Linked DNA regions of Homo sapiens. The protein of the gene in region 7 purifies or fractionates together with the protein of the main gene of each other region. This does not show direct contact. Each region holds a gene or a part of one and is shown on either strand. Other genes may lie near its edges. The genes, in order: PKN3, SPDL1, FAM114A2, POGLUT1, DNAJC13, MTHFD2 and DHX40.

The links.
Region 1: the proteins of DHX40 (region 7) and PKN3 fractionate together in Homo sapiens (co-fractionation; one large-scale study listed by BioGRID). This does not show direct contact.
Region 2: the proteins of DHX40 (region 7) and SPDL1 fractionate together in Homo sapiens (co-fractionation; one large-scale study listed by BioGRID). This does not show direct contact.
Region 3: the proteins of DHX40 (region 7) and FAM114A2 fractionate together in Homo sapiens (co-fractionation; one large-scale study listed by BioGRID). This does not show direct contact.
Region 4: the proteins of DHX40 (region 7) and POGLUT1 fractionate together in Homo sapiens (co-fractionation; one large-scale study listed by BioGRID). This does not show direct contact.
Region 5: the proteins of DHX40 (region 7) and DNAJC13 purify together in Homo sapiens (affinity purification with mass spectrometry; one large-scale study listed by BioGRID and IntAct). This does not show direct contact.
Region 6: the proteins of DHX40 (region 7) and MTHFD2 fractionate together in Homo sapiens (co-fractionation; one large-scale study listed by BioGRID). This does not show direct contact.

Annotation. Positions count from the first base shown.
Region 1 is NC_000009.12:128,705,503-128,709,672, reverse strand, and holds part of PKN3 (serine/threonine-protein kinase N3), read right to left. Parts: coding exon 4,130-4,170; intron 3,940-4,129; coding exon 3,794-3,939; intron 2,961-3,793; coding exon 2,849-2,960; intron 2,778-2,848; coding exon 2,650-2,777; intron 2,452-2,649; coding exon 2,268-2,451; intron 1-2,267.
Region 2 is NC_000005.10:169,597,024-169,601,193, forward strand, and holds part of SPDL1 (protein Spindly), read left to right. Parts: intron 1-1,452; coding exon 1,453-1,556; intron 1,557-1,948; coding exon 1,949-2,136; intron 2,137-4,170. UniProt on the Homo sapiens protein: Required for the localization of dynein and dynactin to the mitotic kintochore.
Region 3 is NC_000005.10:153,989,160-153,994,092, forward strand, and holds the end of FAM114A2 (protein FAM114A2), read right to left. Parts: intron 3,952-4,933; coding exon 3,817-3,951; 3' UTR 989-3,816; downstream 1-988.
Region 4 is NC_000003.12:119,475,003-119,479,172, forward strand, and holds part of POGLUT1 (protein O-glucosyltransferase 1 precursor), read left to right. Parts: intron 1-2,310; coding exon 2,311-2,446; intron 2,447-3,331; exon of another isoform or gene 3,332-3,472; intron 3,473-4,170. UniProt on the Homo sapiens protein: Dual specificity glycosyltransferase that catalyzes the transfer of glucose and xylose from UDP-glucose and UDP-xylose, respectively, to a serine residue found in the consensus sequence of C-X-S-X-P-C.
Region 5 is NC_000003.12:132,497,124-132,501,293, forward strand, and holds part of DNAJC13 (dnaJ homolog subfamily C member 13), read left to right. Parts: intron 1-2,002; coding exon 2,003-2,187; intron 2,188-2,610; coding exon 2,611-2,685; intron 2,686-3,670; coding exon 3,671-3,790; intron 3,791-4,170.
Region 6 is NC_000002.12:74,201,131-74,205,300, forward strand, and holds part of MTHFD2 (bifunctional methylenetetrahydrofolate dehydrogenase/cyclohydrolase, mitochondrial isoform A precursor), read left to right. Parts: intron 1-251; exon of another isoform or gene 252-349; intron 350-4,170. UniProt on the Homo sapiens protein: Although its dehydrogenase activity is NAD-specific, it can also utilize NADP at a reduced efficiency.
Region 7 is NC_000017.11:59,568,464-59,572,633, reverse strand, and holds part of DHX40 (probable ATP-dependent RNA helicase DHX40), read right to left. Parts: intron 2,117-4,170; coding exon 1,971-2,116; intron 1-1,970. UniProt on the Homo sapiens protein: Probable ATP-dependent RNA helicase.

The DNA.
Region 1 (4,170 bases), on a different chromosome or scaffold from region 7:
TCAAGCAATTCTCCTGCTTTAGCCTCCTGAGTAGCTGGGATTATAGGCATGCACCACCAGGCCCGGCTAATTTTGTATTTTTTAGTAGAGACGGGGTTTCTCCATTTTTGTCAGGCTGCTCTCGAACTCCCGACCTCAGGTGATCCACCCACCTCGGCCTCCCAAAGTGCTGAGATTACAGGCATGAGCTGCCGTGCCCAGCCTAATTTTTTTTTTTTGAGACGGGCTCTCTGTTGCCCAGGCTGGAGTGCAGTGGCGCGATCATGGCTCATTGTACCCTCAACCTCCCTGGGCTCAAGCAATCCTCCCACCTCAGCCTCCCAAGTAGCTGGGACTACAGGTACGTACCATCATACCTGGCTAATTTTTTTATTTTTTTATTTTTTTTTGAGACAGAGTCTCGCTGTGGCCCAGGCTGGAGTGCAGTGGTGCGATCTCGGCTCACTGTAGGCTCCGCCCCCCGGGGTTCCCGCCATTCTCCTGCCTCAGCCTCCCGAGTAGCTGGGACTACAGGCGCCCGCCACCACGCCCGGTTAATTTTTTGTATTTTTAGTGGAGACAGGGTTTCACCGTGTTAGCCAGGATGGTCTCGATCTCCTGACCTCGTGATCCGCCCGCCTCGGCCTCCCAAAGTGCTGGGATTACAGGCGTGAGCCACCGCGCCCGGCGATTTTTGTATTTTTTGTAGAGATGGAGCTTTGTCATGTTGCCCAGGCTGGTTTCAAACTCCTGGACTCAAGTGATCCACATGCCTCACCCTCCTAAACTGCTAGGATTATAAACATGAGCCACTGAGCCAGACCAGAAAACTCTTTCTTTTTTTTTTTTTCTTGAAAGAGTTTTGCTGTGTCACCCACGCTGGAGTGCAACAGTGCAATCTTGGCTTACTGCAACCTCTGCCTCCCAGGTTCAAGCAATTCTCTTGCCTCAGCCTCCCCAGTAGATGGGATTACAGGCATGCGCCACCACGCCCGGCTAATTTTTTTTGTTTCTAAAGATGAGGTTTCACTATGTTGCCCAGGCTCGTCTAGAAATCCTGGGCTCAAATGATTCGTCCACCTCAGCCTCCCAAAGTGCTGGAATTACAGGCTTGAGCCACTGTGCCCAGCCAAGAAAACTTTCTTTTTTTCTTTTTTTTTTGAGACTGGGTCTCAAAAAAACTCCTGAGCTCAAGCAATCTTCCCACCTCAGCCTCTCAAAGTGCCAGGATTATAGGTGTGAGCCACTGCACCCAGCAATTTTAGTTTAATTTTATTATTTTTTTTCCAAGGAAATTATTATTATTATTTTTTGAGATGGAGTCTTGCCCTGTTACCTAGGCTGAAGTGCAGCGGCGCAATCTCAGCTCACTGCAACCTCACCTCCTGGGTTCAAGCAATTCTCCTGCCTTAGCCTCCCGAGTGGCTGGGACTACAGGCATGTGCCACCACATCCAGCTACTTTTTTGTATTTTTAGTAGAGACAGGATTTCACCATGTTGGCCAGGCTGGTCTTGAACTCCTGACCTCAGGTGATCCGCCCACCTCAGTCTTCCAAAGTGCTGGGATTACAGGCATGAGCCACCATGCCTGGCCCAAGAAAACCTTTTTTTTTTTTTTTTTTGCGACGGCGTCTTGCCCCGTCGCCCAGGGTGGAGTGCAGTGGCGTGATCTCGGCTCACTGCAACCTCCGCCTCCGGGGTTCAATCAATTCTCTGCCTCAGCTTCCTGAGCAACCAGGATTACAGGCACCCGCCACCACGCCCGGCTAATTTTTGTATTTGTAGTAGAGACAGGGTTTCACCATCTTGGCCAGGCTGGTCTTGGAACTCCTGACCTCATGATCCACCCACCTCAGCCTCCCAAAGTGCTGGAATTACCAGCGTGAGCCACCACGCCCAGCCTAGAAAACTTTCTAACAGTCCAAGCTGCCCAGTGCTGGGTATCAAGCTTTCCAGGGCTGCGAGCTTCCTAACACCAGTGCTTTAAGCATTATTCTGGTTATTTATGTAAATACAAGCTACGCTGTCCGAGTGCTGACTGTGCTAGGCACTGTGCTTAGCACATCACGTGCAACACAGCAACCCTATGAGGTAGGTGCTATATCATCCACATTTTACAGATGGATAAACTGAGGTTTGAAGAAGGAATGTCAGTTTGCCAAGGTCACGCTGCTAGTGGGTGCTGGGGCAGGACTGGAACTCTTGAACTCTTCATCAGAGTTGTTTGTGCTTCCGGCCTCCCCCCAAAAAGAAGGAGAGCTTTGAAGGGGGAGGAACTTCTGACTACCTGTTAGGGCGGTGGGCTTCACAGGTGTCCCTGAAGGCTGGGGGTATCCAGGCACCGCAGCCCGCAACTCTCGGGTCACTCTGCTGCGCAAAGGGTGGGCAGGAGGCAGTTGCTCCAGCAGCTGCTCCAAGGCCAGGCGCAGGAGGTCCAGTTTCTGAGAGGACTCCTGTAGCTGGGCCTGGGCCTGCAGAGGGGACAACGTAGAGCCAGGTTCGTGGGGTATATGGCAGGGGGCAGCAGCCCAGGTCACCCGGAGCCACCTTCCGCATGAAGTCTCAACAGAGAAGTCCTGCTTTTACACGGCCACCCTCCCTTCACACCCCTGCTGAGGGTGGTATGGGAACAAGCCAGCCTTAGGAGAGGGCCAGGGCTGGGGCCTGACCTCAGCCAGTGCCTTGCGGTCCTGTGTTCTCCGGCTACTAAGCAGTTTCACCACGTTCTTGGCGCCCTCAGCCACAGCTGCCTCAACGTGCAGTCGATGCTGTAGCTCCTCCGCCAGCAGCTCAGGCCCTGTGGGAAGGACGGCGGCTCTCAGGCCCTGCTCTTCCCTGCTCCGCCCTCCCTGTGTCTCAAGGCCTCACCTGGCTCCGGGGACCCACTGGCCTCCAGGCTGCTGATCTTCATCCGCAGCAGGGCCACCTTCAGCTGGCTGTCCCGCAGCATCTGCTGGGCAGCTGCCAGGAGCTTCCTCTCCTATGGAGCCATAGCACAGGCCCATCAGACCAGGCCTGGGCCACAGCTTCCCCCATCAGACCAGGAACTGGAGCCGGGTCTCCCCCATCAAAACAGGGTTAAAGTGAAACCTCTAGGCCAAACACTAAAGTCAAGCCTCCCTTGTTGGACTAGTTGGTGGGTCAGGGGAGCCTTTTCCATCTGACCAACAAGGGCTGGGGTCAAATTTCCTCTTTCATATCACGGCTGGGGTCATGCCTCTCCCATCAGATCAGGGCTGGGGCTAACTCTCCCCCATCAGATCAGGGCTGGGGCTAACTCTCCCCCATCAGATCAGGGCTGTGGTCATGCCTCCCCCATCAGAGCAGGGTTGATGCTTCCCCCATCAGATCAGGGCAGGGGCTAAGCTAAGCCTCCCCCATTAGATGAGGGCAGGGGCTAAGCTAAGCCTCTCCCATCAGATCAGGGCTGGGGATAAGCCTCCCCCATCAGATCAGGGCAGGGGCTAAGCTAAGCCTCCCCCATTAGATCAAGGCTAAGGTCCTGCCTCCGTCATCATATCAGGGCCACAGCCAAGTCTTCTTGTCAGACAAGGACTGAGGCCCAGTTCTGGACATCATGCTGGGAGTTGGGACTGGGGCTGGGCTAGGATCCCATTAGACCAGGGCAAGGCCTTCTCTGTCACACTAGAGACTACAGCCATGCCTTCCTCACCCAGCTGGGGTTTGGGGCTGTATTTTCCCCATCAGGCTGCAGGCTGGAATGGTGTCTCCTTATGAGCCCAATGGCTGAGGTGCATTTCCCTGTCAGACCAGGGGCCAGGGTGCTCCTGCCATCAGACTGTGGGGCCTTACCTTGGGGGTGCCACTGGCGCACGTGTGGGTCATGTTCTCAGCCCCCTGCTTCACCTTCAGCTCCACATGCAGCTGCCTCCGGAGAGCCTCTAGGTGCCGAGCCCTGAGCTGCTCTGCCCACGGCCGGGGTCCTGAGGCCACAGGCTCTGTGCACGGGGGTATCGAGCACAGGAGTCCCTCACCCAGAGCCGAGACCCCCACTGTGGCCTTTCCTCCTTCCCCTACTGATCTATAGGCAGGAAATGAGGTGGTCTCGCCACAGTGGCCAGGGCCAAGGCCAGGGGCCAGATGGGCCTAGAGCCTTCTGTCCTGAGGGGGTCTCAGCTCCTCACTCACCAGCTGGGCCAGGCCCAGGGCCGGGCAGCAGGATTCGGGCG
Region 2 (4,170 bases), on a different chromosome or scaffold from region 7:
TATCCTATGAGTTATAATCCATTGCTTGCTTTATTTACTCTGATACTCAAATTGTCCCAGATTTGATAGTCGAAGTGCTCTTACTTGAATATTTCCTTACTCTATGGCACAACAAGGGTTTCCTAGCTCACCTGGCCCACTTCTGGGATTAGCATTTCTTCAAGGAACATTGGTTTATTTTAGTTGAGAATGGTATTTGTGTAAGCATTTGTGTGTGTGTGTGTGTGTGTGTGTGTGTGTGTGTAAGAATTCACCCATGTTTTCTAAATAAGTAGGCAGTTGTCCCAGAGTCATTTGTTAAAAAATCAATCTTGATCCCAGTGATTTGAGTTGACACCTTTATCATACATCAAGTTTCCATATATACTTGAGTCTGTTTCTAAATTTTCTGTCTACGCCATTGGTCTGCTTCTCTGTGTGTCTGTACCACACTGTTTTATTAATTATAAAGGCTTTTAAGTATGTTTATCTGGTAGGACTATTTCCTCACTATACTTTTTATTTTTCAGTATTTTCCTGTCTATTTTTGAATGTTAGCTTTCATTTACAAACATCTTGTCTAGCACCAAAAAAAGCTTGTTGGCTTTCTATTAAAATTGCATGCAATTTAAGATTTTATAAATTGACTTAGGGAACATTGATATCTTCATTAACCTCCTAATGAACTAAAGTTCTAAATGACAAATTTTTGTAAATGTTAATAACCTCTTAGGCATTCTAAATTGTAGCCATTAGTATGTCATAAAATCTTAATTAAGTTTACATAACTTTATTTCTGTGTCTTATAAAAACTGTTGAAAGAACTACAAATTTGGTTAAGTTGGCAGCCTTATGTTTCCATCAGTGGGCTCAGAACTATACTCTGAAAATTATGGCCTTAAATCAGGGGAATTTTATTTATAACCTGAAATTGTTTCAAGTTTTTAAGCAGATTTACCTTTTCTATCCCACTAGAGAAATGTATAGTTTCCATCAGTCTCAGAAGAGCTTGCACTACATTCTTGCCTGGGGTGGGGGGAAGAATCTCAGAAGAGGGGGACACCAGATATAAATGTAAGGCTCTCATCTTCCTTTCATATTTTTCCAGTTTATGGTTTTGTTACAAAGGCCAGAATTTAATCCAGCAGGCATTTGTTTTTCTATTTTCAAAGCCAGGAGAGAGAAGGCAGAGCATGTAGGTAAGGCTAGAAGCCTAGGCCTTGTAGTCAGATTTGGGTTCAGGTTCTCTCTTCTTGGTTTACTTTCATCTGTATTCGGAGCCTGTTTCCTTATCTGTAAGAGAGGAATGTTAATTATTTACCTACTTCAGAAGGCAGATAAATTAAATGGGTAGTTCTTAGCGTAGTACGCCAAGGGATATAAATTCAGGAAGTGATGGTGCTATTATTAATAAACATACACTAACCTTATTTGTTATTTATTTTAAGTAATACAAACTTTTGCTTTTTTAAGAATTTATATGACAGTATGGAATCTAAGCCTTCAGTCGACTCTGGTACTCTGGAAGATAACACCTATTATACAGATTTACTTCAGATGAAGCTGGATAACTTAAAGTAAGTGTCTGGGTTGGTGGATGGAAAGATGAACATGTCACTTGCTTACTATGGTAGTGTCAGTGACTACAAAGTTTTTTTGAAATTGCCAAAGGAAATTTTCCGAAAAGAAAGGTAACAAAAATATCTTTGTGCAGATATTCATGTGTGAATACATTTGAAAGACTATTTCCTCCTTTGTCCATTTCCTTTCAAGAATGCATGAGTATTTTTTAAATTTAACACTACTATTGTTAAGGATTATTTAAATTGTTTATTGTTTCTTTGTTACTAAAAACCCCAGAAAAATGTATTTTTAACTAAGAATTCAAATATGCGATGAAATATTTATACCACTACACTTATTATATGCTGTCTTAATACTCGTTGGTTCTCCTTTTTTATTATCATAGCAAAGAAATTGAAAGCACTAAAGGTGAATTGTCCATACAGCGAATGAAAGCATTATTTGAGAGCCAGCGGGCTCTAGATATTGAGCGAAAACTTTTTGCAAATGAAAGATGCCTCCAGCTTTCAGAAAGTGAAAATATGAAACTGAGAGCTAAACTAGATGAATTGAAACTAAAATATGAACCTGAAGGTATATATGTCTCATATATTTTTGTCTTTTAAATTATGAGTAACCTGAAATTATATCAAATTATTTTCTTACTGTAGTTTTATGCAACTCTATTACAAACTCATTTGTAGTTATATACCTATAGTTAATAAAGCAAATTTATTGTGTAAAATAGGTAGGAAAATTCAGGGAGAACTGGATACTGGGTGTGCCTGAATATAACATGTATCCTTTTTGGATATCTAATTTCATCATACTGTATAGTAGAAACTTGAGATTTGAGACTTTCCCATTTTAAGATTACAGTATTTTATGTCATACCTAATAGTTTAATTATGTTGAAGCAGCTGATGTTTGGAAGCTATACGAGGTAGGACTGTTTATAGAAAATCTAAAGTAATGGAGACTTTAAAAAGGTGGGTCTTTATCTCTGCCTCTGATGGAAGTCTGGAGGAGGCCTTCCAGGACTGGGAAAGCACTCCACGGTATCAAGATTCAGGCTTCTTGTGTTTGTTGGTCTGCTGCCATCCTGTGGAGCAGAATTTAGTCATGCAGCCTCACCTGCTGACAGGAAGGGCTGAGAAATGCAGTCTTGATTCTCAGGGGCCATGTTCCTAACTAAATATTGGGAATTCTTTTATTAAGGAAGAACAGTGAGCCAGGCGTGGTGGCTCGTGCCTGTAATCCCAGCTCTTGGGGAGGCAGAGGGAGGAGGATAGCTGTGCCCAGGAATTTGAGATTTGCTTGGGCAATATAGCAAGACCCCATTCTCCACCAAAATGGGGGGGAAAGGAAAGAACAATGAAACATATTAGGGAATATCTAGCAAGTCTAATGACTGAGCTGGAAAGTAGCCTAACCATACAGTCTCTGCATCTTATATACTACAGAGAGTGAAGTTTACTGTATGTAAATTCAAAAACAAAAGGCCAAGTGTGAAGGAGTCTAAGAATGTGATGGTTCTACAACACCCCTTCCCTAAAAGAGTGTTACATGTTTTAGGTTAAGGATTCTCAACAAGTTTTTGTCCCCGCACTCTGCACATGCCTCAGTCTCTCTTCGTATTGTCTCAGTGAACTGCTATGATTCTCAACAATAGTGGGGAGGTTGCCAAAAATAGGAAGGTTTTTACACAATTTTAAAAGGCTTCTCTTGCTCTTAACTCTTTTTGTTTCTTCCATGATTCTAATAGGCTCCCCTGATTAAGAATTATCCATTATGAATTTCAAACATCTGTTGAACTGAACACAGCAAATAGACAGGAGGCAGGGTAGTGAATCCTGATAATGTGGGTTTCAAAGGAGCAGTGCCAGAAAAAGGGGAAATCATGGTCTAAAAGCAACAATGTAGAGCAAAAACAGCAACCCCTTGTGCTACCAGTGTTCCTCAGACTCCACTAACATTTTGATTTTGAAAATGAAACACATCGATAATGGGCATAGGGAAAAGATATTAGAGCAGTTAATTCAGTGGCTGTGTTTATGACCTGTTTAGATAGAATGATATTAGGCCATGAGGATAGAAGGCATTGCAGTAGTCTTTGATGAGACATGATAGGATTGGACTAGGGAAGTATCCATCATAAAAGTAGTCTGATTCTGCTTATATTTTGTAGGTAGAGCTAACAGGCATATATTACCAATATTCAGAAAGTTTGGCCTATTCTTGTCATTTAATCCTTCTAATACACAATACCAAGTGAAGTGGGTGCTTTTAATCCCCATTTTACAGATAAAATGAAGCTCAGAGAGGTTAAATAATTCCCCAAAGACATGGCTGTCACATACGAGGATTAGGATTCGAACCTGGACTCTGCCGCTGTCTCTTCATCTCCACACTGAGATCTTATGAACCACCTTTTTCAAAACACCAAGAGAGAACAGTGAAGCATTCATGCCTAAAGTCAAAATATTGAATTCCCAAGGAAAAATATATAGCCAAATAAACTTTAAAATATATAGTTTATATAGATTCCATGATAAAGAATAAAAGGTAGAAACAAAGGATGCATTTCAGTGAGGAGATGGTTGCATTTTAAAAGAATGGAAAAAGGTA
Region 3 (4,933 bases), on a different chromosome or scaffold from region 7:
ACCATACTTTGATCACCTATTTCCACTATACAGAACAGCTTTATAACTCACTTGAGAGCACAGAATGGCTAATGTATACAGAAAGAGACAAATGTGGGACTGACACAAGTAGAAATAGATGATGGTTTCACTCAATTTGCAGTTTCTGTATCTGTTCTTATAAGGGTAGGCCAGTCAGACACTTAAATGTCTGGTAAGTTCAACATTGACTTGTGAGGGTGAAGTGACAGCTATAATGAATCTTTCTTTGCTTTTAGCTCAAAGGACAAATGAGTTGAGAGAATATTCAGATTTTTAAAAAAATTGTCTTTAGGACTTGCCTGGGGAAATGATAATTAAACATGAAGGGCCTTTGGGATTTGGCTGGACGATACAGTAACAGGGAAGGATGGGCTTCAAGTTAAGTAGGGAGGACCGAATGAACTAGTGTTTGAGGAACATCAAGGATATACTCAGAGAGTCAGACCAGTGGGCAAGTTTTCAAAATTCTCTTCATACAGTTGCCAGAGGCCTTTATGACATGTTAACTAAGAGGCTTATTATTTTTAGAACTTTCTCATTTCTCAAATGCTTTTTAAGTCTTTTATGAAAAGAGATATCATGTGTTGTTAAGAAATAATAAAAGGGCCAGGCACAGTGGCTCACGCCTGTAATCCCAGCACTTTGGGAGGCCGAGGCAGGTGGCATCATCTGAGGTCAGAAGTTCCAGACCAGCCTGACCAACATGGAAAAACCCTGTCTCTACTAAAAATACAAAATTAGCCAGGTGTGGTGGCACACACCTGTAATCCCAGCTACTCGGGAGGCTGAGGCAGGACAATCACTTGAACCCAGGAGGCAGAGGTTGCGGTGAGCCGAGATCACGCCACTGCACTCCAGCCTGGGCAACAAGAGTGAAACTCCATCACACACACACACACACACACACACACACACAAAGAGATAATAAAACAGCTCAGTCTCTGACATTTGTGAAATATCACACTTGTTGAGTGCCCACTGTGGGTATAATTTTATTCTGGGTTTTCTAAACTGAAGAATTCAGGTTTAAAATTCAGAACACCTCTAGAAATACAGAAAAATGTCTATTTCTCAAATGGAGATATCAATAGCAACTACCTATAAAATAGCTCTCCCTCAAAAAGGTCTTTCACTAAAAACAAGTACAAAAGAAAGCATCCTTTTTCAGCAGTAGGAACCCACAAGATCTTGTTCTTTGATTACAGGATTGAAAAATTCACATTTGTACACCTAGCACTGATTTCAGATTCATAGTAATGCCATCTATAAAAATTACAATTTCACATTTCAGAGGCCTGCCAACCTGGATATCTATGCTTAAAAAAAAAAAAAAAAACTATCAAAAGCAAGTAAGGAAAATATAGCTTGTCCTTAACACATTTCTAAGGTATTATGCAAAGGAAAATAAAAATTGTTTCATAGAGGTTTCTACTTCTTTCAGATCAAATTAATAAAGTCTCTCTTAATCACAGCCTTTTAAAATCTCAATAGTAGGAAAAGACACATTTACCCTAGCAATACCTGAACATTTCACTTATTAAGGTTTTAAGTGAATTGGAAAGGCATATATTAGTAATTAGTGGTAAATCTTAGACACCAAAAATTTAAAAGGAAAATAGTACCAAAAGTGTAGCTGTTAACAAAAAACTAAAACACTGTAACTACCCCAAATAAAATAATGAAGCACATACTATCCAAAAACCATCACCATAATCCAGCAAGTTCCAAAGTGATCCCTGAATTTACCTACTCATCTGTCATGAATGTTTATGTTTCTCTATGTCTACTGGATCAAGGAATCTTAATTCTTTTTCAGTATATTTTATGTGAAGAGTAGACAATTGTTACTCAGAATTGGGCCTTTCATCATTTCACTAGTGGTCCCTAACTCCATTAAAATAAATAAATATATATGGGGGGGTGGGGAAGATGAGAAAAAAAGAGTTAGTGAGTCATATTTACCTTATGTGAGACCTAATCTAAAATTTGCCAAATTCAGGGCTGAAATCTGAATAGGTGTATAAAAAGAGTTGTTACTCTCTCCTTCATATGTATACCCCATTTCTTGAAAGAAAAACCTTAAATACATTTCTAGGTTAAGGATTTAAAGCTGCCAAACTGCCATTGTACAAGAGGCTGAACAGACAGTAGGCAGAGTGACCAGTTTCTAAACTTTGCCCTCAAGGGATACAGGTTCAGACACATCAACCAAGCTTGAGGCAACAATTCAGAACTGGTGACACCAGCCTTTGTAACCAGAAGGCAACTGTTTTTCTGAAACTTCAGAAATATTCAAGCTGGAAAGGGTGAAATTTGTCTTTAAAAAGGAATATTCAAAAACTTTCTGATCATATTAAGACAGAATATAGGCAGAGTAACATTGTAGTGCTGTTGGTATACCTTTTTAAACCAAATTTATTTCTCTTCCTTGCTTACTAACTGACTCCTGCCCCAAAGAAGATTACGTAGAAACAGTCTTTATACTAATCTATGTTATGGCTTTGCTTTGCTATTTTTTTTTTTTTTTTTTGGTCTAAGTAAGATATTAGGGCTCGTGTTTACAAAAGTAAATGAAAGGATCAAATAACATGATTAATACATTTTATTACAAAGGTTTTAGAAGATGAGGGGCAGAGCTAACAAATTACCTTAATCATTAAAAAACCACAAAGTTGGAGAATTTTTTTAAAAAGAGTGGATACCAAAATAGCTTTTAGGAAGACGACAGCTTAATAGTCTCTTAAATTGCTGAAGAGAGCAAAAGAAAGCTTAAGATCTGGAGGATAAAAGTTATATCAAAAACATGCTAAAGAATACATTAAAACAAACAAAAAGGAAAGAGGAAAAAATAAACTATGCCTTAGAAGTTAAATCCTATCATAAATGAACATCATTTCTAAAGGACTATGGCCCACTTCAACACTCAAACAAAAAAATCCTCATTGCTAAAACAGCTTCAACATTCCTTTGGAGTTTGCTGTTAAAGAATTTATCCTGCATATATGGTAGACACGAAACACATCCTGAAGAGACTCAGAATATCTGCAAACATAAAACTGCTTCTCTAAATTGCATTTACTGGCCTTGAATCCAGTAGAGTAGGGTTCAGCTATGACATGAAGTGTGTCATCCTGGGGAGGGGGAGCAATTTGAAGAAAAAGGGCACTTTGCTACAGTTAATTCACATGGCTATAATAGTCTACAAGTTTCTCCTCAATGCCAAATATCTACTAAGAATTTAAAAAAGCAGATGAAACTTTCTATTTCCAAGAATTCATGTGATAAAGGGTAATCATCACAGAGTTTACATATGCTCAGTTTTCTTAAAGCCATAGATTTTATTCCAGAAAGGAGAAAGTACATGGCATTAATAAACCACACATGCCATGAATTTTAGAACACTAAATTATTTTTCTCTGGCTTATCAACCAGTTATATCCATGGGCTGCAAATTATATCCATGACAAAATTGATAACATTTTGCAACATGTCAAAGAAAGACCAACATTTTTGCCTGAGTGTCCCACTAATCTTTATCTAGAGTTATTATTCTTGGACTTTCTACAAAAGTTTCTTTTCAAATAATTTATGAATTACAACAACTGGAAAGAATACTGTGAGAACCTGAATACTTCAATCAAACACTGAAGGCAACAATCTTCCTCTTTAAACCATCTCTCCTGCCTGAATTTTTATATACTAAAATAACCCCACTCCTTCATTTCTGCAGGAGTAGCCAGAATAAGGTGGCATTCCTTGGCCGTCACAAGTCCCAGGTCAAAACGTCTCCATTCTTCAATGTTCTAACAAAGGTTTCTGGCCCTGCAGCTCATGTCTGTGTGATTCAATCTTGTTCTCAATGAGAGAGATCTCTAGCACAGGTAAGAGTAGCTGAAAGGCGTCCTGGATGTAGGAGGCACTGTTTGATGCCTGCCAGGATTGAAAAAACAAGAAAAAGAAAATATTAGTTATTTAAAAGAGAAGATATACTGTAAGGCAACAGGGGAACAGATTAATTTTTGTAATCTAACTGAATTCATAGCCTGGCAAGTAAGAGCAGTGACTTGGCCATTTTGGTAAACTCTATTATAGGGAGAAGAATTTAGCTCTTAAGATGATATGAGCACCAAAAGAGAATGTCAGCATTTTGTACAACTTGCCCATCAGACATGGTAGCTTTTCTTTGGCAACATGGTCAGACTTGGCATTCAAAGCTTATTTATTCCTTTATTGAGTAGGGTAGATTCTGTCACAATATTGTGGTCAATTACTGAAAGAGGCTTTCAGAAGGCTATAAATCCTACACCTATAGAATTTCTAGCCCATTATGATAGCTCTTTTTCCATGGACTCAATGCGATCAGTGAGCACAATAACTGCTCACACACATAAACATCTTTCACACATATACTGCTTTCAAAGATGACAGTATAGATATATTTCTATCTTGAACAACATTTTTCAGAAGTGTTAGAGAATCATTACCCTCAGTTTGCTGGACTTCATTTATACTGAAAAGCCCTCACCTTTCAAAAGAATATCAACAGAGAGCTCATTAAGATAAAAATGTATAATTTCGAAGACAAGAGTGTTTCAAATCTGTATCCAAAAAAAAAATCCACTAAAAATAATAGGGAGCCCATATCAAGTGATATTACCTTTTTAAAATTTATCAATGGCAAGTACTATTTAAAATTCAGTGTGACATTTAATACTCAATTTCCCACACAAAAGGGACCTCAGATATCGTCTAGTTAAATCTCTTATGTTGCACATGAAAATAACGAAGTTTGTCAGAGTCACACAACAAATCAAGGAAGATCCAGGGCAACACGGGGCTCCTGGTTTACAAAGTCTTTTCTACTGCACCACTCTGCCATTTACTAAATCACAAACTTATATTTTTAAAAATT
Region 4 (4,170 bases), on a different chromosome or scaffold from region 7:
AAAATATCCAAATATTTTACCATGCTAAAATATTTGGATACCTCCAAAAGACATTCAGTGAAAAGGAAGTTTCTCTTCCACCTCAGACCCTCAGACTGCTAGTCCCTGAGACCTCTTTTCAAAAGACAATTAGAATTCTGTGTCTTGTATATCCTTCTAGAAATAGTCTGTACATTTACAAGCATCTAGACTCATCAACAAAATAAAACATGCTGTCTTCTGTTCTGCACTTAGATTTCTTTTCCATATAACAGTAGATTTTGAGATTGTTCCATAAGAGTCCATAGAGAATGCCTCACTTTTTCATGGCTGCATAATAACTTATTATATGGATTTCTTTATTCAGCCCTCTATCAGTGGACATTTAGATTATCCCTTACCACATCACTTTGCTTTTTGGATAACGCAAGCAATGCTGCAGTGAACATCCTTGTTACTGTGAACACTCATGTAAATATATATGTAGGCTAAATTCCTAAAAGTATAATAACTAGGGCAATTAATGTCATTTTAAAATCTTGATAAATAGGCTGGGTGAGGTGGCTCACGCCTGTTATCCCAGCACTTTGGATGGCTGAGACAGGCAGATCATCTGAGGTCAGGAGTTCAAGACCAGCCTGGCCAACATGGTGAGAACCTATCTCTACTAAAAATAAAAAAATTAGCTGGGCATGGTGGCCTGTGCCTGTAATCCTAGCTACTCGGGAGGCTGAGGCAGGAGAATCACTTGAAACCCGAGGTGGAGGTTGCAGTCAGCTGAGATTGCGCCATTGCACTCCAGCCTGGGCCACAGAGCAAGGCTCCATCTCAAAAAAAAAAAAAAATCTTGATAAACAGGCTGGGCACAGTGGCTCTCACCTGTAATCCCAGCACTTTGGGAGGCTGAGGTGGGAGGATCACTTGAGCCCAAGAGTTCAAGATCAGTCTGGACAACATACCAAGACTGTCTCTCCACACACACACACACACACACACACACACACACACACACAAACACATACAGAGTTGCCAGGTGTGTTGGCACACACCTGTAGTCCCAGCTACTCAGGAGGCTGAGGTGAGAAGATTGCTTGAGCCTAGGATTTTTGAGGCCACAGTGAGCCATGATCATGCCACTGCACTCTTCAGCCTGAGTGGCAGAGCGAGAGACCCTGCCTCAAATAAAAAAAACCTTAAAAAAAGAGAAATCTTGGTAAATAGAATCTAATTGTCCTACAAAGAGGCTAAACACTTCCACAACCGATATATCATATGCTGTGAATAGATCTCACACCCTTACCAACACTGCACTATTGGACTTTTTGATCTTTGCCAATCTGATTGGTAAAATTGGTATCTAGTTTCATTGACATTTCTTTATTATTAATACAGTTGAGCATCTTTTCCTATGTTTGTGAACTGTTGATATTTTTTGCAGTTATCTCCCTATATAAAAAACACTTTTTTTTTTTTTGGCTAGAGGAGCTCACTACATTGCCTACTGTGTCACTATGTTGCTGGTCTAGAACTCTTGGGCTCAAATAACCCTTCTGCCTAAGTCTCCCAAGTAGTAAAACAATATTTTAAATCAGTTATTTCCATGCTGCCAGAAAATTTTGATCAAGCCTTTGAATATTGCCCCTAGCATAGTGCTGGTCAGGACCTCAGAGGATGAGGCAGAAACAAGCTAAACTGTCAGTGTATCTTCTTTTTCTTTCAAGAAATCCCTGATTTCCCAGGGAATCTAGTCAGAAAGCTGTGTTACACTATTTATGATTATGTATATAACACTTTTTCTGGCTTGCAGAACTGATTTTGATAATGTTCTTTATTCAGGTTGAAGGTAATGAAAGGTTTTCTATCTGTTCTCATAAACTAGGAGACTTAATTATAATGGAAATAAAAATGGTGTCTTTGTGAGGAGCAAAGCCAAAGGAACACAGGTGGAAAATTAGCTATTTCAGCTATTACGAGAGTTTGTATCTTGTCTACTAATTAAACTATTCCATATAAGGGAAATAAAGAAAAGAACTGGAATGAATAAAGTGGTAGAAGTAGCAATAATACTCCCTTCAAAGCTATGACGATTTATTTGGAAAATTTTATTAAGTATTGTAAGCTGGAGCAGCTTAGCTATGAGTGAACTTGCACAATACAAAAAAGCAGAATAGCCCCTTTAGAAGCATTGTTTTCAGGAGACTTTGCAGTAGACTGATGATATGGAACACTGGAACACTGGCTTGTCTTACTTTAAAATGTGAATGGGACCTCGCCTTGTCCTAGAGCCTGCAGGCACTACTCTGCTGAATTTATGGTATGTCTGGTTGACAGGTGTAGTGGTGTTGAGCACTTTATTTTGGAAGTGATCGGGCGTCTCCCTGACATGGAGATGGTGATCAATGTACGAGATTATCCTCAGGTTCCTAAATGGATGGAGCCTGCCATCCCAGTCTTCTCCTTCAGTAAGGTAAGTACAGGGAGAGCCACATGGGTGGATGGAGAGTGGTCCTCTAGGATATGAGCATGAGATCTTTGTCCGGTGACATAGTCTGATGGATAATGGTAAGGATGAGGACTGAGGTCCAGAAATGGGTCTGTGTCTCTATTAGCATCACAGTGATTGAGCAAAAAGACAGAGGAGATGAAGTTGAGAGCTGGTAAGTAGTGTAAGATTGCTTGAGTGTCTATAGGGCTAGAGATGGAGGCTAGGGCGTGAGAGGCCTGAGAAACCTACAGGAATTAGAGGTGGGTCTTGAAGATCTTACAGAGCATGGGAGGAAGGGGTCCAAGAAAGCTTGGAGTTAGGGAACACCTTCATTCCAAAAGTTTGTTGAGCTCCTACTATGTATATATTCAGCCATAGTGCTGGGTATCAGCTGTCCCATCTGTCACCATATTCCGGGGGCCCAGGGTGGCTAAAAGTGAACCTGAAGGTGCCAGATAACTCCACACGGTGTGTGTACAAGCCGTGCATTGAAGGGATAGGCTGGAGATAGCCTAGAGGGCTATGCAAGGGGGTGATCTTTTAGACTCATCATGGAAGATTGGAGTAGCTAGGATACACCTGTGGGCTTGGGGAATTGGGGGCAAGGAATGTCTTGTCAGTGCTCAGGTTCATGTAAATGTTGTATCGGCAGGGATGGGCCTTGGTTCCCTAGAGACAAGGAAAGCATTTGGGGGTGAAGGCAGGAAGGCTAGAAGAGAGTGGATGGAAGATTCTATGGGGTAAGAGTGAATTGAGGAAAACCCCATGAAATTTGGGAAAAGGAACACTATTTCTGATTTGGTTTGTCTAAAGCAGAGGGACCTTTTATCCCCACTTTTTCTTTATCATAGTTTACTTTCTCCCTAGACTTGTTTTATTTCCTGTGTTGCAAGTGGGCAGAGGCCACATTTGTGTTGCATTTCCCATGGTCTAGCCTCATTTCTCGAAAGTGTTTGGTTCCATTGTTTGTCATGAAACTCACTCAGAAGAACAGATAGAGGCTCCCATGTAAGTCAGTAGGGACTTCGTGTTTGTTATCTATCTGTTGTTTCTATGGATAATAAAGTATGACCGTCGGTATACTAACTTTCCGTTCATCTTTACTTCCCTTCTGTTTTTTAAATCAGTGACTTCTAGTTTCCAAGGGAGAGTTTTACTCTGTCAACTTTATAGTTAATTGTGCAGCTTCTATTGAATAGCTGTTATGTTTAAGGTGCTTGATGAATCACATTTTTTACATATTTGAGAGACAGCAAACAGCATATTGCACATGTATTTCCAGTGGAAGAAATAGTAGAGTTAGAGGTTTATCAGTGGCCAGATTTTTAACAGAAGTAACCATAAAAAGGGAACAAATGGAGGCCAGGTGTAGTGGCTCACACCTGTAATCCCAGCACTTTGGGAGGCCGAGGCAGGTGGATCAAAAAAAAAAAAAAAAGGGGGGAACATATGGCTTTAAACTTTTTTCTTTTTTTTGAGGCAGAGTCTCACTCTGTTGCCCAGGCTGGAGTGCAGTGGCGCGATCTCAGCTCACTGCAACCTCCACCTCCCAGGTTCAAGTGATTCTCCACCTCAGCCTCCTGAGTATCTGGGACTATAGGCACCTGCCACCATGCCCGGCTATTATTTTGTGTGTATTTTTTAGTAGAGACAGGGTTTCACCATGTTGACCAGGCTGATTTCAAACTCCTGACCTCAGGTGATCT
Region 5 (4,170 bases), on a different chromosome or scaffold from region 7:
CATACGTTCTATTTCCTATTGTAGCTCTCAGGACCCTCTAGTCCTGTGGGACAGTTTGAAGAACACTGGTATAGATGAAATAGGTGTAATTTCAGATTACAGGATTATCCAGTGTTTGTGGGGCCATTTGCAGTAGCCCTAACAGTAGCAGTCAGAAAGCCAGGAGTATGTTCAAAACATCCCCCTTTGTTGGGGATGAGGGGTTAGGTTCAATATGGCAGATGCCCAATGGCTTGGGAACTGAACTTGACTTACAGCACAAAGTGGGAGAGCCATTTGCTATGGTATGTTGGGAGAGAAGGAAGAGGACTTTCAGGATTTGAGATAAGCATGGAGAGTGTTGGGTAACTAAAGACAAGAGATGGTGTTGCAGTTTAAGTATTGGAGGGGACAACCTGAGGATCTAGCAGTTGGATTATTAAAGAGAGCAGTGATTAGTTGATTTACTTTTACATGAGTTTAACAGAATACGTTTATAATACATTTTAGATATATGGCTTTTACTAATCAGAATGAGTTTGGAAACCTTTTTCAAAACCCTTGGTTGTCTTTTAATGCTGATAACTAAATTATTAGCCACAAGATACAGTTATGGCCCATCCTGGTTTCTCTGTTATCAAGGTCATCTTTAACTTTTCCCAAGAGGGGTTTATACCCAAGAAGCTCTGAGGTGGAGGTCCTGATCTGACAGGACTTAGTTATTCACTGTTCTTTCTTATTACGTATGTGTCACTTTTTTTTTTTTTAAAGGAAAATTAGGACCTGTTCCAGGGGGCCTTTTTTTTAAAAGCCAGTTTAGAAATGAGTTTTAAGGCAGATTATTGGTCAGCCTCAAAAGTCAAAAAGATTTATGCTGATTTCAATTGGAATTATAGAGATACTTTTAAAGTCACAGCCAATTAATTTGCATCTCTTTGCCTAATAGGTTAGATTGAAAAAAGAAGATGGAAAGAACAGAGTAATTAGGCATGTAGGTTTACTAGCTTTCACTTTTAAATTTGGTTATTAAAACATGGAATTAACTAAATGTAGTTTAAAAGTTAACTTTCTGTTTTGTACTTCTAGTAAGAAATTGTATTATTTTCAAATTTAAGAAAATACTGGTAAAACTTTAAGATAACTGGTAAAATAGATACCAGTTATCTTTAAGATAACTGGTAAAATAGATACTGGTAAAATAGATAAACAAGGGCACTTGTTATCCAGAAAACTTAATATAAAATATTCAGTGTCATGTAAATGTCTTCTCAGTCTTTTTTCTTTATAAAGATGTGCATATAATTGATATTAATAGAATTTCTGGTGCATTTGCTGTACCTTGCGTTCTGTGATGAGGTGAAAAGTTACAAAGATCAGCATAGAAAGTAGGTATTCTGCAAAGGATCAAAACTATACACCAAGTGCAGTTAATTTACCAGAAAATGTTATTTTTCTAGTGGAAACATTTTAGAAAAATCAACCAAGTTTACTAGAAAGGAAGGATCCAAGGGATTTTATAGTAGGTTTAATTTCTTTTTTTATCAACTGGCATTAGGAGGCATTTAAGATGTTAAGATAAAATATTTTATCTTTTTTTTTACGTTTTATTTTATTTTATTTTTATTTTTTTTGAGACGGAGGCTTGCCCTGTCGCCCAGGCTGGAGTGCAGTGGTGCCATCTCCACTCACTGCAAGCTCCACCTCCCGGGTTCACACCTTTCTCCTGCCTCAGCCTCCCGAGTAGCTGGGACTACAGGTGCCTGCCACCACACCCGGCTAACTTTTTTGTGTTTTTAGTAGAGAAAGGGTTTCACTGTGTTAGCCAGGATGGTCTCAATCTCCTGACCTCGTGATCCACCCACCTTGGCCTCCCAAAGTGCTGGGATTACAGGCATGAGCCACCATGCCTGGCCCCATTTTTATTTTTTTAAGGCAACATATTCTTGAACATGGTATCAAAATTGAAACCACAACATAATCAATTTTGTTTTGTTTTTCTAACACTAACCATTGGTTATTTCAGATTTACAGCCTTATAAATATGCAGGATACCCCATGCTTATTCGGACTATAACAATGGAAACTTCAGATGACCTCCTTTTCTCAAAAGAATCACCATTGTTGCCTGCGGCTACAGAGCTAGCTTTCCATACTGTCAACTGTTCAGCCCTCAATGCTGAAGAGCTCAGAAGAGAGAATGGACTAGAGGTAATACGGAGTGACCTTTGTGCTTTTTAAGCCAGTTTACACACATTATATGACTCTTGGCAGTGAAGAATTCAGCAAGTACAAATGCAGATTCTTTAATTTATTTCAGCAGATAACACAATATTTTCCATATTCTTATACCAAATTAAAGGTAGAAATGGAGCTTTATTTCACAATGTGAGTTGGAAAGTATTGGGTTCAAAACCGATAATGGTAATATTGTTTACAAAGTAGCTTATTAGAAATGCTTAAAAGGAAACTTTTAGGAGTCCTTTGTTTACTATTTATTAACAAATGTTGATCAAACATTTATGTATCAAATATTTAACATTAAAGGGTTATTTATATTTTATTACTGCTAGAAAAGGCCTTTCAGACTTGAAGTCAAAATGGAGAGTTAATAGCTGACTTCTTCCTCTGCAGGTGTTACAAGAGGCATTTAGTCGCTGTGTGGCTGTCTTGACTCGTGCTAGTAAACCAAGTGACATGTCAGTACAGGTGAGGCTAAAACCTGTGGTTCCAAGAAAATTGCACTAGTTCAATGGTTCAGACTTTAACATATCTGAGAATCAACTGGAGGGCTCATTAAACTGTAGGTTGCTGAGCTCCACCCCACCCCAAGTTTCTGATTCAGTGAGTCTGGGGTGGTGGCCTGAGAGTATGTTTTTATAACAAGTTTCCAAGTGTCATTGATGCTGCTGGTCTGTGTATCACACTGTAAGAAACTGTACTAAAGCACTTGTGATCTGTTGGCTTACGTTTTCTTTCTTAGAGAATAGTTTATTGAACCCATATGTTTCCATTACCCAGCTTAATGCCATTCTTGTTTCACATATCTTCCATCCCTCACTCTCCTATCTCTAGTATTTTAATTGGCTTAACATTTAAGGTTGTAAGATAGGAAATTCATCAGGAGTTCATTAAGAGCTTTGTAGAGCGTGTCTTTCTATTTGACCTTTTGCTTATGCCAGCAAAATTCAGAATATAAAACGAGTACTGGCTGTTGAGTTCCATCCTCTATTTTGAAGTCCGTTGTGTAAACAGAATTGTGATATTCTGCTATGTTAATAAACTATACAAAATTACCTTAATCCAGAGGCCAGCAAACTTCTAAAATAAAGGTCCAGGGAGTAAATATATGAGTCTTTCAGGCTTCATACAGTCTCTGTTACATTTTCTTTTGTGACTTTTTTACAGCCCTTTAAAAATCTAAAAACCATTCTTAGCTCTTTGGCAGTACAAAGACCATGGTCAGTTTGGCCCATGGGTTGTAGTAGCTGTGGTTTGCCAACTACCCCAGCATTTATAGGAAATCTTAATGAGAAAGACTAGTGATCTAGTAAAGACATTCTGTTTAATTTTGGAACATTGTATATACCATTAAGCATTATTCACAAATTTCTGCTGGTTTGATTTCTATGTGTTAAATAAGGAATGCCTATGTGACTCTACTGGTTTTTTTGCTCTGTTGTGTTGTCTGCAGGTGTGTGGATACATAAGTAAATGCTACAGTGTGGCTGCTCAGTTTGAGGAATGCCGAGAGAAGATCACGGAAATGCCTAGCATCATCAAGGATCTCTGTCGGGTACTATATTTTGGCAAGGTAGGGTTAATCTTTAATGCTTTCTAGATACAGACAGCAAAGTGTCTTTTTGTCAACTAGCCAGTTCCTAATGTATAAGCACATTGTTTTCCCAAAGTTATTTGTAAGTAAAATTATTTGGATTTCTAAAAGCATTTTTCACAGAAGCCTTGCTGTAAATGGAGGCTTTGCTTCTAGGCTGGCCTACAAAGAAAAAGACTAAAGTGATACATCTAAAGGGAAGTGGGTTCCATCTGAACATTAGAATGAGTGGCAGGGAGAAAAGAGAAGCCTGTAATAAATAAGTCTTTTAAAAGCAAAAGGCCAGCCCGGTGTGGTGGCTCACGTCTGTAATCCTAGCACTTTGGCAAGCCGAGGTTGGCAGATCACTTGAGGTCAGG
Region 6 (4,170 bases), on a different chromosome or scaffold from region 7:
GCGCACACCACCATGCCCTGCTAATTTTTGTATTTTTAGTAGAGACAGGGTTTCACCATGTTGGCCAGGCTGGTCTCGACCTCCTGACCTCAAATGATCCACCCACCTTGACCTCCCAAAATGCAGGGATTACAGGCATGAGCCACAGTTTTGGATTTTATTTGAACAGTCCTCTTGACTTCTTCCTATTCTGTTGATTACCTATCTTAATGGGATTTTTTTCTTTCCTTTTTTTTTTTCTTTTTTGGCAGGGGAATCTCTCCCTAGGTCAGGTTGGAGTGCAGTGCTGCAATCACGGCTTACTGCAGCCTTGACCTCCTGGGCTCAAGTGATCCTCCCACCTCAGCTTGTGAGTAACTGGGACCACAGGAGCATACCACCATGCCTGGCTAATTTTTTTTTTTTTTAACTTTTAGTAGAGATGGGGTCTCACCATGTTGCCCACGCTAGTCTTGAACTTGGCCTCCCAAAATGCTGGGATTACAAGGCCTGTGCCACCATGCCCAGCCCTGGGAATTTTTTCTAAACACATCTGTGAATGCATTTAATTCTGGGATAAATGTTAGCTAATATAGTTACAATTTTGGATTCCCCGTGGGACTTAGCTGACTCTCCATTTCCCTGTTTATTTTGGGGTAGCAGTTAATCTGCCCCTTGGCAAAAGAGATGATGCTAAATTAGTTAATGACTCACTCCCAAGGCTGTATTTCACATTTTGCAGAGTTGTGGGAAGCAGAGGAGGGCTGACAGTTATACTATGAAAGATATTCATTGCATGTGACTTTGTTTTTGGTTCTTGTTACTCTTTGACTGTTTTTCTTTCTTTTCTTTTTTTTTTTTTAAGCAAATTGGCATAACATCCAGAACCTGCTTTTGGAAGCAAAGTTTGGGACTTGGAACACTGGCTTTTCCCAGAACCCTGTGTCCTTAACTTCAGTATATGATTTTATCTGAATGTGCTAATACCATTTTCTCTAAGTTTACTGCTTTCAAAAGAAACTTTTTATGAGGTGCAAGCTAAGTCATTCTCACTGACTAGATATACATATAGTGTATATACTTATATATATCTCCTTATGTGTAAGTGTATCTATTTTAAGGATACATGTGTATGTGTGTGTATATATACATATATATATAAAACCAAGAGAAAAGAGTAAGAAATTAGTTTTATTGAACATATATGCCTGGCACATTATATATGTTTGTTATTTCATTCAACATAAATGACTGTTCTAAGCCGTTTTAAAGTAGTCTTTCACTCTGTAGTGTTCCAGGATTAGGAATGTATTTTTGGCCTGCGGTGGGCATTCCAGGTACTAATACAAATCAGGAATGAGGAATGTTGCCAGGTGTATTTGTATCAGCAAAACCCCCCTATTTTAATTTTTTTTTTTTGAGATGGAGTCTGACTCTGTTGCCCAGGCTGGAGTGCAGTGGCACGATCTCCGCTCACGGCAGTCTCTGCTCACTGCAACCTCTGCCTCCCGGGTTCAATCGATTCTCCTGCCTCAGCCTCCCAAGTAGCTGGGTCTACAGGTGCGTGCCACCATGCCCGGCTAATTTTTTGTATTTTTAGTAGAGACGGGGTTTCACCATATGAGCCAGGATGGTCTCAATCTCCTGACCTCATGATCTGCCTACCTTGGCTTCCCGAAGTGTTGGGATTACAGATGTGAGCCACCATGCCCGGCCTGCAAAACCCTTTTAATGAAGTCCTCTTCGACTCTAATTCTGAAATGGAATTGTGAATATTAATATGTTTTCAATTTCTTCATATACCATGGGTATAATTAAATGCTATTATATGTTGTGCCATGCTAGTATTATATAAAATCAGGGTAAAAGTATTTGATTTGCTGTAAGATTGTAACTTTTTTCTTTTTTTGAGATGGAGTCTTGCCCTGTTACACAGTCTGGAGTGCAGTGGCGTGATCTTGGCTCACTGCAACCTATGCCTCCTGGGTTCGAGATATTCTCCTACCTCAGCTCCCGAGTAGCTGAGATTACAATTACAGGGTCCTGCCACCATGCCTGGCAAATTTTTGTATTTTTAGTAGAGGCGGGGTTTTGCCATGTTGGCCAGGCTGGTCTCAAACCCCTGACCTCAAGTGATCTGCCCACCTTGGCCTCCCAAAATGCTAGGATTACAGGCATGAGCCACCGTGCCTGGCCAGATTATAATAATTTAATACTTCACAAGATGCAATACAGATTAAGATAAAGTTTATATATAAGATTATTGCATTATATCTAAGATGTTGAGATTTGGTTTAAAGTTGGTATTTAATCATAATGCAATAAAAAACACTTATTGAAGGCCTAAAGATTGTGAAAGCTTTAAAATCCCATTTAAATTAGCAGTTACTGGCCGGGTGCAGTGGTGGGTGCCTGTATTCTCAGCTATGGAGGCAAAAGCTGGAGAATTGCATGAACTTGGGAGGCTGCAGTGAGCTGAGATTGCTCCAGCCTGGGCAACAGAGCAAGACTCTGTCTCAAAAAAAATAAATAAATAAATTAGCAGTTATCTTGAGAATTAATTTTATCTGACCCTACAGGATATTCAGTACCTTGATGTTAGGTTTTAGAATATAAGAGGAGATTACTTCATTGGTCTTGAGGTTAGAGCAGTCTTCATGACACCAAGGACAGAGATCTAAAGGGAAAGGCTTTTTTTAATGGGATCATTTTACTTAAGGAAGAGATGCTCATCTAGTTTAGTTTAGTTTAGTTTAGTTTAGTTTAGTTTAGTTTAGTTTAGTTTAGTTTAGTTTAGTTAGTTTAGTTTAGTTTAGTTTTTTGAGATGCAGTCTTTCTCTGTCGCCCAGGCTAGAGTGCAGTGGGGTGATATCAGCTCACTGTAACCTCTGCCTCCTGGGTTCAAGCAATTCTCCTGCCTCAGCCTCCTGAGTAGCTGGGATTATAGGCGCGCACCACCATGCCTGGCTAATTTTTGTATTTTTAGCAGAGACGGGGTTTTGCCATGTTGACCAGGCTGGTCTGGAACTCCTGACCTCAAGCAATCCACCCTCCTCGGCCTCCTAAAGTGCTGGGATTACAGGCTTGAGCTACCACGCTGGGCCAGATGCTCATCTTTAAGTAATGGGCACTTTACTGTAAGGACATGTGTGAAAATAGGAAAACTGGGACTCTTCCACATTTGGGTTTCATGGAACCCAGGAAGAGTTGCATAAGCAGTTCTCTTTGGGAAGAGACAGCCTTTCGGGCAGCTGAACATGGTTTTGGGAACTGGAGGTTCTTCTAGATCCTGATTTTTCTTCTTGCTCCCCACCTCAGCAACAGTTTTCTGATTTCTTGCCCTGTTGTCTCCCATTGGTGTGACTATTATTCTGCCTATTCTTTCTGTCTTTGTTCTGTGGTTCTAGTTTGAACTGCCTCAGGGACGAGCTCTTACTGGTTCAACTAACTCTCACTGCTCTGTTGAGCTAAGCTTTTGCGCCAACTGGACCACTGGCCAGCCTAGAGATTGTTGCCCTTGGCGTCACATACTCACTCCTGGTCTGTCAGCTTTGGATGATATGGTGGGGTCCCTGGGAAGAGCACATTGCCAACTGTGAGAAGGAGCTTCCTCCAGTCCCCTGCCCTGCCCCTATTCTTACCAGGAAAGTCTTCCCCAGAAGGGACTGTGGGGAGTGGTGGTCATTTTGATGTTTGACCTGTCCAGTATGTTGTTTGTTTGTTTGTTTATTTTTGAGACGGAGTCTAGCTCTGTCACCGAGGCTGGAGTGCAGTGGCACAATCTCAGCTCACCGCAACCTCTGCCTCCTGGTTTCAAGTGATTCTCCTGCCTCAGCCACCTGAGTAGCTGGGATTACAGGAGCCCACCACTACGCCCAGCTAATTTTTGTATTTTTAGTAGAGACAGGGTTTCATGTGTTGGCCAGGCTGGTCTCGAACTCCTTACCTTGTGATCTGCCCTCCTCGGCCTCCCAAAGTGCTGGGATTACAAACGTGAGCCATCGTGCCCGGCCTATATTGTTTGTTTATTCAACTACAGAATATAATTTATCGATTTAAACCACCATAAAAATGAAGTCAGTTGACTGGGAAATGATTTGAAATACATGCCTGGCTGCTAACAACAGGGACAAAACACGAACTACAAATGGCATATAAGCAGATAAGAAAAACTATTTAACCTCATGGTGA
Region 7 (4,170 bases):
GCTGAGGTGGGCGGATCACTTGAGTCCAGGAGTTCGAGACCAGCCTGGACAACATAGCAAAACCACATCTCTAATAAACATATAAAAATTAGCCAGGTGTGGTGGGTCACGCCTGTAGTCCCAGCTACTTGGGAGGCTGAGACGGGAGGACTGCTTGAGCCTGAGAGGCGGAGATTGCAGTGAGCTGAGATCACGCCATTGCACTCCAGCCTGGGTGACTTAGTAAGACACTATCTCCAAATAAAAATGTGTTACTCAACAAGCATTAAAACAGGGTGAGAAAAAGGTCCAAAGGGTAGGAATAACAGCAACGACATCCATAAAACAAGGGAAAGAAGAAAGAAAAAACAGTGACCACTAGGAAGGCAAAAAGATAGTATTTTGGGGAGTCATCTTGTGCCACATTTGATGGCCATTCCCATTAGGGAACATATGTAAACCAGGGATCGTTTTGTAGCTGGACAGGATTAAGAAATCCACAGGGAATGTAAATTATAATATTCACTATTAAAAAGAAAATTTTAAATTTGTTGGTGCCATGAATATAGAAGATGCTTTAACACTTGCTGATTTTGTTAATTGGCTGATTTTGTTAATTCAGCTTTCCATTGACTTCAAGAATACAAACACATAAAATAAATCAACCTGAAAACATGCTCAGTGAAATAAGAGTGACACGAAGTACAAAATATTGTGTGATTCCACTTGAATGAGGTACCCGGAGTAGGCAAATTTGTAGAGACAGAAAGTAGAACAGAAGATACAGCAGGGCGCGGTGGTTTACCCTGTAATCCCAGCACTTTGGGAGGCCGAGGTGGGCAGATCACAAGGTCAGGAATTTGAGACCAACCCCATCTCTACTAAAAATACAAAAAATTAGCTGGGCGTGGTGGCAGGAGCCTGTAAACCCAGCTACTTGGGAGGCTGAGGCAGGAGAATCACTAGAACCTGGGAGGCAGAGGTTGCAGGGAGTGGAGGTTGCGCCACTGCACTCCAGCCCGGGCAATGGTGTGAGACTTCGTCTCAAAAAAAAAAAAGAAGTTACCAGAGGCTAGGGGGAGGGAGAAATGGGGGTTTTAATCTATAAGAGTTTCTGTTTGGGATGATAAAAAAAGTTCTGAAAGTAGAAATGGTGATGGTTACCCAACATTGTGAACACATTTTTTTTTTTTTTTTGAGGTGGAGTTTTGCTCTTGTTGCCCAGGCTGGAGTGCAGTGGCGCGATCTCAGCTCACCGCAACCTCCGCCTCCCGGGTTCAAGCCATTTTCCTGCCTCAGCCTCCTGAGTAGCTGGGATTACAGGCATGCACCACCGTGCCCAGCTAATTTTGTATTTTTAAAAGAGACAGGGTTTCTCCATGTTGGTCAGGCTGGTCTCGAACTCCTGACCTCAGGTGATCCACCCGCCTCGGCCTCCCAAAGTGATGGGATTACAGACGTGAGCCATCGAGCCCAGCCCATTGTGAACATACTTAATGGCACTGAATTGTATACCAAAATAGTAAAATGGTCGATTTTAAGTTATATATATTTTACTACAATAAAACATTTTAAAAACCTACATGTCAAGAATCCTTACAGTTAAAAAACATAAATAAGAGAATCCTAAGAAAATAAACTGTCATTTATAAACTAAGGAAGGAGAAAATGGGATGAACATCAGACACTTGAGAGCTAAAGCATTAACAATGAACAACAAAAATAAATTCTTTAAAATATATATTGAACTTTGAAGTTAAAAATCTTTCAGAACTCTCTCCACTCTTTCTGTTAAGTTTATAACATTAGCTGGGCATGGTGGCATGCTCCTGTAGTCCCAGCTACCCAAGGGGCTGAGGTAGGAGATCACTTGAGCCCAGAAGGTAGAGGCTACAGAGAGCCATGATTGCGCCACGCACTCCAGGCTGGGCGACAGAGCAAGACCCTGTCCCATAAAAGAAAAGAAACAAATACCAACAAGACTTTTGTACCTTAGAACTGCAATCATCAAAACGAACTTGGTATCCTACTTTGGATCCCAAAGTGCATTTCATTTCTTCAGCTACTCTCTGAGCAACTGATATAGCAGCTACTTTTCGTGGTTGAGTTACACCAATCATACCATGTTGTGAAAACCCTATCAAAACCAGAGATAAAGAAACACAACAATGTTAGCAATTGTCTTCCTATTAGAGCTAAATTGTTTTTGGCCAATCAACACAAAACTGCTTGAATGTTTCCAAAAGAATATCTCGCAAATTAAAAACACACTGCTATGTTTGCATCATGGAAATTTAAATATTAATTTAAAATAATACATATTAATAACCATGCAAAAATATATTATATATATAATATATAAATATATATAATATAAATCCAGTTTATATTATATATATTTATATATTATATATATTATATACTAATATATATTTAATATATAATATATATTATAATATATTATATATTATATATATTAATATATAACATATTATATGTATTATATAATTTATAATATATTATATATAAATATACATTATAATATATTATAATATATACTATATATTATATATAAATATACATTATAATATAATGTATATTATATATATTTAGACAGAGTTTTGCTCTTGTTGCCTAGGCTGTAGTGCAATGGCGCAATCTCGGCTCACCGCAACCTCTGCGTCCCAGGTTCAAGCAACTCTCCTGCCTCAGCCTCCCGAGTAGCTGGGATAACAGGCATGTGCCACCATGCCGGGCTAATTTTGTATTTTAGCAGAGACGGGTTTTTTCCCTGTTGGTCAGGCTGGTCTTGTACTCCCAACCTCAGGTGATCCACTTGCCTCTGCCTCCCAAAGTACTGGGATTATAGGCTTGAGACACCACGCCCAGCCAAAACAAAAAAAAAGAAAGAAAAAATTATATATATATCTATATATATATATAGATATATATATATTTTTTTCTTTTTTGAGACGGAGTATTGCTCTGTTGCCCAGGCTGGAATGCAGTGGCGCGATCTCGGCTCACTGCAACTTTCACTTCCTGGGTTCAAGCGATTCTCCTGCCTCAGCCACCTGAGCAGCTGGGATTACAGGCGCTTGCCACCAGGCCCAGCTAATTTTTTTGTAAAAAATATATTTTTTAAATTAGAATTCAGGCTTTGTCTGTTTTTTTCTGTCTAAAAATCTACTCTAAAGGTAAGCCAAGAATTTTGAAACATAAGAATTCATAAAATTCCACACACTTCCCAAAATAAATTTACTTTTGCCACAAGAGTAAAACTGGATTTATTTATTTATTTATTTATTTATTTATTTATTTATTTTTGAGATAGAGTCTTGCTCTGTTGCCCAGGCGGGAGTGCAGTGGCACAATCTCGGCTCACTGCAACCTCTACCTCCTGGGTTCAAGCAATTCTCCTGCCTCAGCCGCCTGAGTAACTGGGATTACAGGTGCGCGCCACCACACCCAGCTAATTTTGTATTTTTAGTAGAGATGGGGTTTCACCATGTTGGCCAGGCTGGTCGCAAACTTCTGACCTCAAGTGATCCATCTGCCTCAGCCTCCCAATGTGCTGGGATCACAGGCATGAGCCACTGCACCCAGCCTAAAACTGGACTTAAATATGCCACCTTTCTGCTGGGAGCAGTGGTACACACCTGTAATCCCAGCTACTCAGGAGCCTGGCTACTCAGAAGGTTGAGGTAGGAGGATTGCTTGAACTCAGGAGTTTGAGATCAGCCTGGGCGACATAGTAAGATCTCATCTCAAAAAAATAAATAAATATATATATCTATATTTATATATATATATATATGCACCTTCCATATACCATTTTAATATATTTGGGAATGGAGCTGCATCTTAAAATCGATGGCGCATTTCCATTCTTACTAATACAGTAGTCCCTCTTTACCTTTGGTTTTGCTTTCCAATTTTTCAGTTACCTACAGTCAGTGGAGGTCCAAAAATGTTACAGTACTTTGAGAGACAGAGAGAGACCACATTTACAAAAGTTTTACTACAGTATATTGTCATAACTGCTCTATTTTATTGTTGTTGTTGTTAATTTCTTACTATGCCTAATTTATAAACTAAACTTTATCAAAAGTATGTATGTATGTATAGGAAAACACATAGTATATGCAGGGTTTGGTATTATTGGCAGTTTCAGGCATTGAGTGGTCTTAG